Linked DNA regions of Homo sapiens: all the other regions are reported to be linked to region 3. Evidence: microRNA targets listed by miRTarBase, many of them from high-throughput screens and not tested one by one. Region 3 holds a microRNA gene; each other region holds the end of a gene's coding sequence.
Evidence for each region. Region 3 holds the annotated microRNA hsa-miR-1306-3p (ACGUUGGCUCUGGUGGUG, at 1,367-1,384, opposite strand). A microRNA usually pairs through its seed, bases 2 to 8, with sites in the 3' UTR of a target mRNA and lowers its output. Matches are read on the target gene's strand: a 7mer-m8 pairs with bases 2 to 8, a 7mer-A1 pairs with bases 2 to 7 and ends in A, and an 8mer does both.

Region 1 (4,146 bases), not on the chromosome of region 3:
TGGTGGCATGTGCCTGTAGTCCCAGCTACTTGGGAGGCTGAGGCAGGAGAATGGCGTGGACCTGGGAGGCGGAGCTTGCAGTGAGCCGAGATCCCGCCACTGCACTCCAGCCTGGGCGACAGAGCGAGACTTCATCTCAAAAAAACAAAACAACAACAACAAACAACAACAACAAAACAACTTCTAACTCCTATCTCAAGGATGGGGGAAACCGAGGCCCAGAGAGCGTCAAATCGCTGTTCAGAGCCAGGAAGCAGCACAGAAGCCTCAGAAGAGGGGGCCCAGGGTCTGCCTGAATGGGGCCAGGAGGTTGAGGTGAGGATGAGAGGGGGAGGAGCGGGGGGAACCGAGCAAGCCCCGCCCCCATACCTGCCAGGAATGTGACCAGCAACGCAGCCCACAGAACCTTCATCTTCCTGCCTGTGATTGGCCAGTCTGGGGAAGGAGAAACTGTCAATCAACCGCCAGTGAGGACTCCTCCCACCCCCAGCCCGGCCCCAACCCGGCCTCACCCCAGGTTAGCCTTCCAAGCCTTGTTGCATTATCTGCAACAGCCTAATCCCAGCACATTTACCAAGCCGCCCCCAACCCATTCCCTATTTAACTCCCTCCTGGTCTTCTCTTATCTCCCCATCCCCAGGTCGGCCTCCATAGAAAATTCCATCTTCCTCTCCCGGGGTTCAAATTCCATCCCCCCACCCCCTCCCCACCGCCGGTTCCATCTCAGTCCCAGTCTCGCATTCCTCATTCTCCCTTCACATTCTAAGCTCCAACCTCACAGTTAAGCGCCGTGTTCCATTTATGAGCTAATTCAGTCCTCATTTTAAAGTTCTCCAATCGACGGCTAGCTACCGTGTCGCTGCCCCTGGCTCCCCAGTTATGGAGATCTGAGGACACTGGGGACACCCAGTAGGTGCTCGATAAATGATAGTGACAACTCGTGGAGTCCTGCTATGGCTTACATCCCAGTCCAGCTGCTCTCCCCACCCCACCTTCTAGCGGGTCGGGTCGTCTCTGCTGCCCAGCCCTTCCCAGGTCCAGTCCCCTGCTGCTTGCCTCACCCCCGCTCCTCCTCTCCCCAAGCCCGACCCCGAGTAGCTCTCCTGAGACTACCTGGAGGCCAGGGGTTCCCAGGGTCCCAGCTCTTTCTAGAGGCCCCTGAGCTCATCCCCGTGCCCCCGACTGCGCTTCTCACCGGCTCCTGGGGAAGGACGTCCTTCACCTCCGCTGGGGCTGAGTAGGACTCAAGGATCCCAGACTTGTCCAATTATAGGGCTCCCCCTGTCCCGCCCCCTCCCCCAGGGATAGGGCGGGCTGGGCCAGCCCCCAGTCACGAGGTGGGCTGTTCTCCCCCTGCCCCAGGCACAGCAGGGCAGAGGGAGGAAGGAGGTGGGGCATAGAGGTCTTTTGACCACCCCCCACAGTCCCCAGGAAGGGAGGACACCTCGCCCAGTAATACAGACACCCTCCTCCATTCTGGGGGCCAAGCGTGGAAGGGGAATGTGGAGGCTGCCGCCCAGAGTCCTCCTTTCCTGACCCTGTCCTTTCCTGTGCCTGGATGAATGTAATCTGGAGAGGGGGCTGGGGATCTGGACTCCTGGATCCCAGAAAGAAAGTAGGGCTAGGGGGCTGGACAGAAGTGGGATGGGAGGGGCTGGGGGCGGTAGCTCACGCCTGTAATCCCAGCACTTTGGGAGGCCACAGTGGGCGAATCACTTAAGGTCAGGAGTTTGAGACCAGCCTGGCCAACATGGTGAAACCCCATCTCTACTAAAAATACAAAAGTTAGCCAGGCGTGGTGGCGGGCGCCTGTAATCCTAGCTACTTGGGAGGCTGAGGCAGGAGAATCGCTTGAACCCGGGAGGCGGAGGTTACAGTGAGCCGAGATCTCGCCACTGCACTCCAGCCTCAGCAAGAGGGAGACTGTCTCAAAAAAAGAAAAAAAAGAAAGTGGGGCTAGGCGGCTGGACAGAAGTGGGATGGGAGGGGTGGGAACAGTATGATGCACCTGCTAAAAGTCGAGGCTTTGCAAATGGGACCTGGGTTTTAATCACAGCTTCCTCTTTGGTTGTGACCTTGAGCACAGGGGAGCCCCCTCCCCACATGTGAAATGAGATTCCAGCACCTCCCCCTGGCTGCCACAGGTATTGTGGTTTCCAGGGGCTTGAAGCCGTGCTTCTGGGTTAAGGTTAGGATTCTGGAGTCAAATTGCCAGGGCGTGAATCCTGGCTCTGCCAGTTGCCAGCTGTGTGACCTTGGGCAAATGACTTGTCCTCTCTGAGCATCAAGTTCCTTTGCTCATCAGACTGGGAAAGCAGCGGCACGGGTATGTTTGGTGACAAGCTAACGTGTATTGAGCATGGAGGACAGCCCTGGCACACAGCGGTCCTATGTTAGGGCTAGCAATGGACAGGCCACAGTGAACGCTCAGACGCTGTCACTTTCCTAAGCCCTGTTATAAATCCCAGATGTTTCAGAGGAGAAACCCGTGGTTCAGCAGCAAGACGAATGGCAAAACCACACAGTGAGAACTGGGAGAGACTGGGACTCATTCCTGGCTCCTGGAGCGGGTGGGATCAGAAGATTCTGCGGGTCAGGGGAGGCTGAACTCCTGGTTCGAGAAGGAACCCCCAGTGCCGGGCCGGGCCTGTTTGCTTTGGCTGGCAAGGGGTGGCTGAGGTGGGGTTGGTAACCTGGGGTTGGTTCTACTCAGCAGCCTCCTTCCCCAGACCCTGGGGGCAGACAGGGTTTCAGTTCCTGGAGGCTCGGGAGTCGTGGTGGGCATCAGCTGACCCCAGCCCTAGGTTGGCAAAATCCAGACAGCACCAAGTCCTCAGACACAGGTGACCCAACTCCCATGGCTGGCCTAGGCCCCTCCTCCCAGGCCTGCGAGTCCTTGAGCCCCTTCTCCCTGACACAGCAGTTCCTAGTACCCTAGTTGTTCTGAAGCTGTTCCAGTAGCTTGAACCCTCTCCCAGCTCCCTGCCCCCATCTCTGCACTCAGAGACAGTGTCATCTCTGCTGCTGCAGTCTGCAGGGACAAAGTCCTCTATAGCCACTCCGGCCAGGTCAAGCTGGGGGCAAGTGACCTTGAGACCCTACCCTCAGGCAAGGGAAGGCCCGTAGTGTCCCCCAGCAGGGCAGATGTTCCGGATGGGAAGATAGCGACCCCAGGCCACGCTGCGCCCCTCTGAGCCGGACTTAAGGCAGCATCAAGGATCCGCTGCTTTCCGTGCTCCGGCCCTCTGGCGCCCCCTGCAGGCGGCTGGGGGAAGGTCAGGGCGGCCAGACTCCGGATGAAATGCTCAAAACAGGCCAGACACACTTGAGAAAACGGAGGCCTCCCATCGTTTTTTTTCCCACGTATATTTTTTGTTGTTTTTTGTTTTTTTTCTGTAAAATGTCCCGGTTCTTCCATAACTTATAAACATGATTTATACCGAGGAGATGGGAAAGTGGACGGGGCAGGGTGGACTGACCGGGGATGGGGAAGCTCCTCTCGCTGCCCCCTCGGGGCGGGCCCAGGCCCTTTGGAGGATGGGGACGCCAGGACACTCCTCCCTGAGGTTGTCTGGCCGCCTCTGCCCCTGGTGCTCAGAATCCTGCGTGCCCCTCAATTCCGGAATCCCTCCCGGGACCCCAGGCCCACTGGGCATGCTGCCCCTGCTACTCAGAATCCCGAAGCGCCATTCAGTTCCAGAATCCCCTCCTCAGCTGCTGGGGTGGCGGGGTCCCTCCTTTCCAATGTCCCCCCCGACCCCCAAGGGGGGAGGGAAGGGAGGGGGGCTCAGGTCTCCCCTCTGTGGCAGGGGGAGGTGGAGGTGGAGGTGGAATCGGAAGGGCGTGGAAGGCGGGGGCCAGGAGGGCTCAGCCGATGGTGAGGCCAAAGCCACACTGAAACTTGTTCTTGCGGTGATTCAGGAAGGCCCCAAGGGCCAGTGTCAGGGGCAGGGGTGGGAGCTTCTTCTCCAGCGTGGCACCCACGATCCAGTTGCTATCCACAGAGCCTGCAGGGAAGAGCTGAGGTGAGAGGCGTGCCAGCTTCCCACCATATCCATGCAGAGTTCCTGGCCACCTTGGATACCAGCCACATGCCGACAGCTTCCAGACCTTTAACCACACTGCTCCTGCCACCCTGAAACCCCA
Region 2 (4,167 bases), not on the chromosome of region 3:
TAAGTATAAAATGAGATACTATACAAAAGACAAAAACAAAAACAAAACAACAACAACAAAAAAAAACACTTTGGAAAGTAATAAAAGCTATACAAATGCTCATATCTTATTTTTATTCTTTGTCTACTTCCTAGGGGAAGAGTAATCTAAAAAACACTGCAATGGCCTATGTTCTAGGTTTCATGGGAAGGCTGACGTATTTTGATGTGTGTATACTATCCATATACTGTGCACTCCTAAGGACCAATAATGATTGAGGTAGAGTATCTGCAACGATGTAGGGGGTCACAAAGGAATCGCTTTTACAAATGCAGAGAGCTATAAGTAGTGCCTCAAGCAATTTCAAAATGTGGAGGCACAGTAAGCCTCACTCTGCCTGCATTCTAGGTGGCCTTCGTGATCCACCCCTTGAATGAGGGCTTTGAGGAGGGGGCGGGTTGCCTTTGCTGCTTTCAGATCCTGGGGAGCCAAAGCCTCCCCTGACTCGTTGGTCTGAAATTGCTTTCGTGGTCTGCCAGGGAGAATCCTGCCAGGAAGAGCCAACCTACTTGGGGTTGGGGTTGGCTGTTCCAGCTGTTTACCAATTGCCTCTCACTTGTAAAGTGTAGCTTTAATTATAGTTTTGCCAGAATTCATTTTAGGAATGGCCACTAACAATGATTTACTTGGGGAAACCTGTAAGCAACTGTGTCAAGCCACGTGCAGTGAAACCTGAATTAACTGAAATCTCATTAACTAGAATACATATTTCCTGCTCACCTCATTAAAAATGGGAGAACAAAGAACATAACACATGAACTGAGTTCCTATTACATGTCAGACACTTCACTACGCACTGGAACTACATACAGTGCAAAGAATGGACAGGCATTCTAGGAACTGACTGTCTTCCTAAATGGAAATCTGCTGTTTAATTCCAGTCAACTAGCAGGGGCTCCAAGACTTGCTGTTAAGCCAGACAGTAAATCAAGTCACTGTTCTTTTAAGATTGTTTCCTTTGGCCCGGTTTCATGGGCCTTATGTTGCAGAAACCTCTATGGACTTCCTCTTCAGGATTTGCTTCCAAGCAGGATGTTTTGCCAGCTGCCCCGAGTCCCCAGTGCAATAGCTGCGGCAATCAGTTTGGTGACTAACAGCAGGCTCTCCATTTAAATCATAAACTACATGGGTGAGTGGGGAAAAGTCTTCTCTATATTTTATATTCCCTGATCCAAACAAACCAAATGTAAAAGGGCATTTATGAGACAACCGGGATGTTTCAAACACTGACTAGACATTTCATGTTAATGAATTATTGTTCATTTTGTAGGTGTGATAATGGTGGGGTTGTGGTTATGTTTTTTTAAAGAATCATTATCTCTTGGAAATATATACTAAAGTATTTACAGATAAAATGATATAGTTTTGCTTTATAATAATTCAGCAGGTCTGTAGTAATTGATGAAACAAGATTAGGCATATGTTTATGGTTGCCTGGGGGCTGAACTGTATTATCCTCTTATTTTGCTCATGTTTGAAAGTTTCCACGGTAAAGTTTAAAAAAAATAATAATAACCCTTCATCGGGCGCGGTGGCTCACGCCTGTAATCTCAGCACTTTGGGAGGCCAAGGTAGGCAGATCACCTGAGGTCAGGAGTTTGAGACCAGCCTGGGCCAACGTGGTGAAACCCGGTCTCTGCTAAAAATACAAAAATTAGCCAGGAATGGTGGCACATGCCTATAATCCCAGCTACTTGGGAGGCTGAGGCATGAGAATTGCTTGAACCCAGGAGGCGGAGGTTGCAGGGAGCTGAGGTTGTGCCACTGCACTCCAGCCTCGGTGACAGAGTGAGACTCCGTCTCAAAAAAAGAAACAAACAAACAAAAAAAACCCTAATTATGTTAAATTAAAAATGTTTGTATTTCCTTTCCATCCACTACCTGAGTCTAGTAGAGGAGATAGAAGGTCCTTAATCCCTGCTTTCAGTCTCCCTATAAACTATGTGAAACTTTATAAACTTCTATTAACACAACATCTAGCACTCAGGAATCCTTACCTGCTGATCTCCTTATAAGAGGTTTTCATGAAGCCAGTACTTGTAGGATTAAATGTAAGGAATTCTCTATAATTTCTAAGATCTCTTCATTTTCCTCCGCTTTTATTATGGGTTTTTTTTTTTTGTTTTTTTTTTTGTTTGTTTGTTTGTTTGTTTTTTTGAGACGGAGTTTCGCTCTTATTGCCCAGGCTGGAGTGCAAAGGTGCGATCTCGGCTCACTGCAACCTCCGCCTCCCAGGTTCAAGCAATTCTCCTGCCTCAGCCTCCCGAGTAGCTGGGATTACAGGCATGCACCACCACGCCCGGCTAATTTTGTATTTTTAGTAGAGACAGGATTTCTCCATGTTGGTCAGGCTGGTCTCGAACTCCCGACCTCAGGTGATCCGCCCGCCTCGGCCTCCCAAAGTGCTAAGATTACAGGCGTGAGCCACTGCTCTCAGCCTTATTATGGTTTTGAGGGGTACAGTCAAAGGAAATTTGAGGACTTGAACCCCTCAGATATGAAACTGCCACCAGCGGGAAACAGAGAAGTGAGTTTCCATTGACTCTGGACATTCTCAAACCTGATGCAGGGGGATGGGAGAGGGTTGATGCTGACTGTGACATTGCAGGACGGAGCTTGTGAAACCCAGTTTCTCTCATCACCACGGTTTCATTAATTTTGAAAATAATGGTTATAGCTCCTTTTGTTTTTGAGATGGAGTTTCGCTCTTGTTGCCCAGGCTAGAGTACAATGGTGCAATCTCGGCTCACTGCAACCTCCGCCTCCCAGGTTCAAGCGATTCTCCTGTGTCAGCCTCCAGAGTAGCTGGGATTACAGGCCTGTGCCACCATGTCCGGCTAATTTTTTGTATTTTTAGTAGAGATGGAGCTTCACCGTGTTAGCCAGGATGGTCTCAATCTTCTGACCTCAGGTGATCTGCCCTCCTCGGCCTACCAAAGTGCTGGGATTACAGGTCTGTGAGCCACTGCGTCCGGCCCGATTATGGCTCTTTAAGAAAAAAACTTCCCACACTGAAACCTCAAATACTGATCACAGGATCCACCTGTGTTACCCAGCTGTTCTAGCAGCAAAAGTCTGAAAACGACCCCTCACTTTAATCAGGCAGGCAGGCAGGCATTCCACATGTACACCTGAAACCACACCAGACTATTTCTGCATATTATAAGTCACGAGAGAAAACCAGCTAGACCAATGAAGCAGCTTCTTCTACGATTAGATGCTTGTGTTGGGGGTGCGGGATTGGGGGAGATATGTTCTAGAAGCCACTGCCAGTTCTATTTAGAGTTAATCAAGCTTACCAGGACCCTGGGTCTCATGCAGCATGCAGCAAACAGCAGAGTTAACTGTAAAACAGTAAGAGCTGATGAAGATGGAGTGAGCATGAGGGGAAATCAAATATTATGACTTGACACAAACAATGAAGGGTTAGAGGTCAAAGGTGATTAGGAGTAGCAGGAAGGGGAAGTGGGAAGGGTGGACTGGTAGGAACCCCTGAAACACTGATACTCTTTTTTTTTTTTTTTTGAGTCAGGGTCTCTCTCTGTTGCCCAGACTGGAGTGCAGTGGCGCAATCATGGCTCACTGCAGCCTCAACCTCCCGGGTTCAAGCAGTTCTCCCACCTCAGTCTCCTGAGTAGCTGGGATTATAGGCAAGTGCCACCAGGCCCAGCTAATGTTTATTTATTTATTTTTTTTGTAGAGACAAAGGTCTCACTATGTTGCCCAGGCTGATCTCAAACTCCTGGACTCAAGCAATCCTTCGCCTTGGCCTCCCAAAGTATTGGGATTACAAGCATGAGCCACCACGGCTGGCCAGTACTTTCTTAATCTCTTTAGGGGCAGCTAAAGGAAATTCTGAATATGTGACTCTTAGATCCAACCACCATCTCTCAAGAAGAAATACTACTACCACCATTTCTGCCCTCAAAACTCACTACCGTGACTATGGGAGGAGGGTAGCACAGGTCTAACGGTGGCTCTTCCAGAAGTTAACAAATTGCTCATGAAATTACATAAGAAGCCAAGATTCAGGGCCACTTCTGCATCTGGAAGTACAGAAGAAGACAGGTCATTCTGTTAGGCCCTTATTGCTAATATAAGGTGCCACATGCCAGCAGGGTTTTCACC
Region 3 (4,000 bases):
CAGGACGTCCTCCCATCCTGTGTTTCCCTCCTCAGATATTTCTGTCCTGTCCTCAAACATGCCTCCACCCAGCCCACTACCTGGCACCAGAGCTCTCTCAAAGCATTTCTGCTAAGGAAGCAACCACCCCTCCACTGCCCTGGAACACCCACTGCTTCTGACCCACACACGTACTTTTGAGCACTGTTTTAATCTTGGTCATCATCGGCTGCACACTTGTCTCTCCATCGGACGGATGGTCGCTGTCTCCGCCATATTTTTCCTCTGTTCGCCTCTTTTTGGGGGCACAAAGGCCTTCTTCCAGCAGAGCATCCACATCGTTGTCAAAGTCATCCTGCAAAACACGCTGTTCAGACACCAGAGCCCCTGGCGCTCATGCTCCTGCAACAGGAGAGCTCAACAGCATTCCTGAGAACAGACACAGAAAGGAGGTGCTCTCAGGGGGCCTAGATGTGCCCTTAGGGTGCATGATCATCTGAAAAACAAACAGGATGAAGCTACCAGCTGACACCAACACACCTGGTCCAGGGGCACACACTGCCAAGGAGCGTAACTCAGCAGCACCTGCTGCCCCACGCGCTAGATCAGGGATGCAGGGCCTACCCATGGGCCAAACTTTTCATTAGGAAACTTTAAAAATCTGGACTCCTTACATCTTTCTCTTCTCCACATTAACATTATTCCACCTCAGAGGGGATTTTGGTTTTTGTTTTTTTTTTTTTTAATTTCCCTGCTTTCAAAAGATGCTGCAATTCCCAAATCTCTCTTTGGGTTTTGCTAAGAGCCCTCTAGAGGAGGGGCTGCCAACATACCTCGTAGGGGAAATTCAAGGCCTCTTCATCCACTCTGTCTCTCTGAACGATTGCTTTAGCCGTGAACCCGCCTGCTCCTTCTTCATCTAGCTCCAAATTGTCAGTAAAATCTTCTAACTCATCGAGCACTGCATACTCCACTCTCTTTTCCTGATCCAGCTCATTCTCCTCATCCTTCTTATCAGCACTCTCACCCCCTATGCCTACCCCGTCACCAACACTCCCGCCAAAGGGACAAGCATGCACGTCCCCACTGACAGGGCTAAGGAGCAGACCGCACTCCGCCCGCACGTCGCGCTCTGCTCCTGTGTACAGCACCTTCCTGTCCTTACTCCTGCAGCTCTCGGTAAAGCTCACGCTAATCTTTACATCCTTAAGCAACTTAAGGTCAGGGGAGAACTTCCGGACCGCAGGTGCGTGCCGGGCGGTGCGCGGGCTGTGGCCACTACAGTTCGGGTCTATGAGGAGGCGGCCCTTAGAGAAGGATCCTTTGGAGAGAAGAGAAGCTCCGTAGAAGTTGAAGGGGTCCTCAGCAGGGAGTTCGGACTGTCCATCACCACCAGAGCCAACGTCCATTACCTCTGCACCACTGGACGTTTGCAGGGGAGGTGGTGGAGACTGCTCACGGGGCAGCGCTTGGAAGGGGCGAGCTCGGCTCTCCATCACCGCTTCTCCTGCGGGCCCACACGGGAGCGGAGAGGGGCTCTCATCTGTCTCCATATTAAAAGCGCTTAAGACTAGTTTACAAGACCAGAGTTTTACAAGCCCTCACATAAATCTACACAGCTAACATGCACAAGTCCGCTGAGACCCGGGCGCGTCCTGCCGCGCTGTGCGCTGGCGGCTTAGTCAAGCTGGCCACATTGCTCTTTTCATTAATGTAGACAGCTTTTAGAACCACTGCCTCAATTATTGGAAATCACAATGCACTCAGCTTAAGTGACTGGCGACTAAGCGAGTCTGTCTTCATGCCGGAGTGGCACCTTTCTTCTTCTACCTGCAAAGAAATTTAAAAATATCGTCACAAAATGACAGAAACCTTCCAATTCCCTGGTACCAAGTTAAAAGCCAAGCACTATTAACAGCATAGTAAAGGGCTTCAAAATAATATTCCCTAAGAGGACTTTTTAGGCATCAAAACAAACTAACCTTACTTTTATTCTTCAGAACCTGAATTATAACTTAAGTCCAAAGTTAAATATTTTGTTAATGCCCACTTTAATTCCTACTTCAGAAACACAAAAACTATATAATCATAAGGCTCAAAAAATATTTTAAAAATTTACACTAAACTCCACCACAGCATTCTTCTAACTCAGATAAGCAAGCATGCAGTGGGAGGCACCCTTTCTGGAACACACAGAAGGCGCGTGGCCTCCCTCAGGCCACCAGAGCACAGCAATCCACTCACCTGCAAGGGCTGGGTCAGTCAGAGGGCGAGCGCGAGACCCTCAGCTCAACTCTGCGGCACTAGGGGCCTCAGAGGCATGGCCAGGCGCTCTGCTACCCAGGGACCCCAGGGCTCTCCTGGGCCCACAGGGTAGCACGTGGACGGGGACAGTGATGCAGCGTGCTGAGGTCACCAGAGGTGGCAGCATAGTTCTGTTCCCGATGGAGGAGAGGGGTGGGTGGCTGTGGGGAAGGGACCTGCCAGGATTTGGGGTGGGGAGCCACAAGAGACAGCTGGAGCCGAGGCACAGAGAGGCCTGGGTGCCACCTGCAGCCCGTTCCGCCCTGGGGACAATAAGGAGCCACTGAAGGTGAAGCGACTCTCATGCCACAAGTAGGTTCCTACTTGAGAGGGGAGACCCACAGCTGTGCCAGGCAGAAGCAACTGCATCCAAGGCACGGGGACAGTCCTCCAGGCCAGAGGACAAAGGTGTGAAAGAGGCCCTGGCAATGGGCCAAGAACAGTGTCACAGAACTGACCGCACTTGTTGACCCAACGGAGGTGGATAGCAGAGAAAAGAGGGAACTAAAGACAAGGAAGGACACCCAAATTCCAGCATGCAGGCAGGAGCCTGGCGAGGAGAACAGAGGGGACCTCCAGGCAGGCTCTGAAGGTGCCGAGGCCACAACTCTGGAGCCATGACTGGTCCAGATACGGAAGGCCAGGACGCACTGAGGAGGTAGTCGCCAAACCCACAGGAGGAAGGCCACCCAGAGATGAGGGTTAAGGATGCAACTCTAGGAAGCCTTACTACAGAGGAAGCATGAAGAAAGGGACAACATGAAGCAGGGAAGATGGGTCTGAGGGGGCAGCCAGAAAACCCTGCATCAGAGCAGAAGGAACACATGCAGACACACGCACATGCACACTCCCACAACGTGCACAGGAACACGCATGCATGCACATGCGTGCATACCAGTAAAGATGCACACATGCAAACCGCACTGCATGACCTAACATCCTCCCAAGATTCCCGGAAAGAACAGGAGATGCAGACATCACACATTTAACAAGGGACAAGGCATGGTGGATGTACTTCGAAGGGGACACAACATGAAAACCAGAGACTAGTTTAGGTTTAATCAATACATTTAACAACTATCCACTGGCCATCTACTCCGAGGAACGCACTATATGGACAAGAGACAAGGTCACAGGGCCTGGACACACTGGCAGGTCAATGACCACTGCACTGTCACCCCATTTCCTGGATTCTAAGATGTCCTAACATTTCTGAATCTAATGGGAATTTCACACCGTATGTTCCCAAAGATGTGTCCATCAAAGGTGCTGAGGATCCAGGAAACACAGCACAGAGCTAACAACTGACTATAAAGTGCTGAAGACGCTCAAGAGGCTGTGGGCAGCAACCAGGCAGGCATGAGGAACACTAAGTGGGGTGAGGTCAGTCTCCTGGCAACCAAGAAAGACCATTAGAGAAAACAGACCGAGGGGTCAATGCGCCCAGTGCCACAGATTACAAGGAAGACCAGGGCCACACACCTCAGAACCTGGCAGTCCCATAGAGACCCTGGTGAGTCAATCCATGATTCTGGGACACAAAAAGCTACATGAAGAAGCCACAAGGAGCAGGGGATTAGAGACCAACAGTGGGACGGAATGGGGAAGCCTGCTACCACAGAAGGCGAAGAAGCAGCTAGAGTAGACGTTCCAAGCAAAGGTGCTAATGGGGCCAAGCGGCGGCACTGAAGAAATGCACAGCAGGAAAGCCTGGTGC

Region 1: the mRNA of TOMM40 is a reported target of hsa-miR-1306-3p. The part of its 3' UTR that is shown has no 7-base or 8-base seed match.
Region 2: miRTarBase lists SEPTIN6 as a target of hsa-miR-1306-3p. The part of its 3' UTR that is shown has no 7-base or 8-base seed match.

What each region holds. Positions count from the first base shown.
Region 1 is chr19:44,902,891-44,907,036 of GRCh38, reverse strand. It overlaps TOMM40 (translocase of outer mitochondrial membrane 40), which reads right to left. Exons shown (of 9, transcript NM_001128917.2): 9 at 3,348-4,007. The coding sequence ends at 3,868. It overlaps APOE (apolipoprotein E), which reads right to left and starts at 1,241. Exons shown (of 4, transcript NM_000041.4): 1 at 1,196-1,241; 2 at 370-435. The coding sequence starts at 412. RefSeq lists enhancers at 1-319, 1,122-1,924.
Region 2 is chrX:119,621,997-119,626,163 of GRCh38, forward strand. It overlaps SEPTIN6 (septin 6), which reads right to left. Exons shown (of 11, transcript NM_145799.4): 10 at 3,339-3,383. The coding sequence ends at 3,380. Among named protein-coding and RNA genes, the nearest start is that of NKRF, 18 kb to the left of the region's middle.
Region 3 is chr22:20,083,496-20,087,495 of GRCh38, reverse strand. MIR1306 (microRNA 1306) reads right to left here and starts at 1,438; the gene lies at 1,354-1,438. DGCR8 (DGCR8 microprocessor complex subunit) reads right to left here. Exons shown (of 14, transcript NM_022720.7): 2 at 813-1,809; 3 at 175-334. The coding sequence starts at 1,532. It overlaps MIR3618 (microRNA 3618), which reads right to left and starts at 1,750; the gene lies at 1,663-1,750. RefSeq lists an enhancer at 3,714-4,000.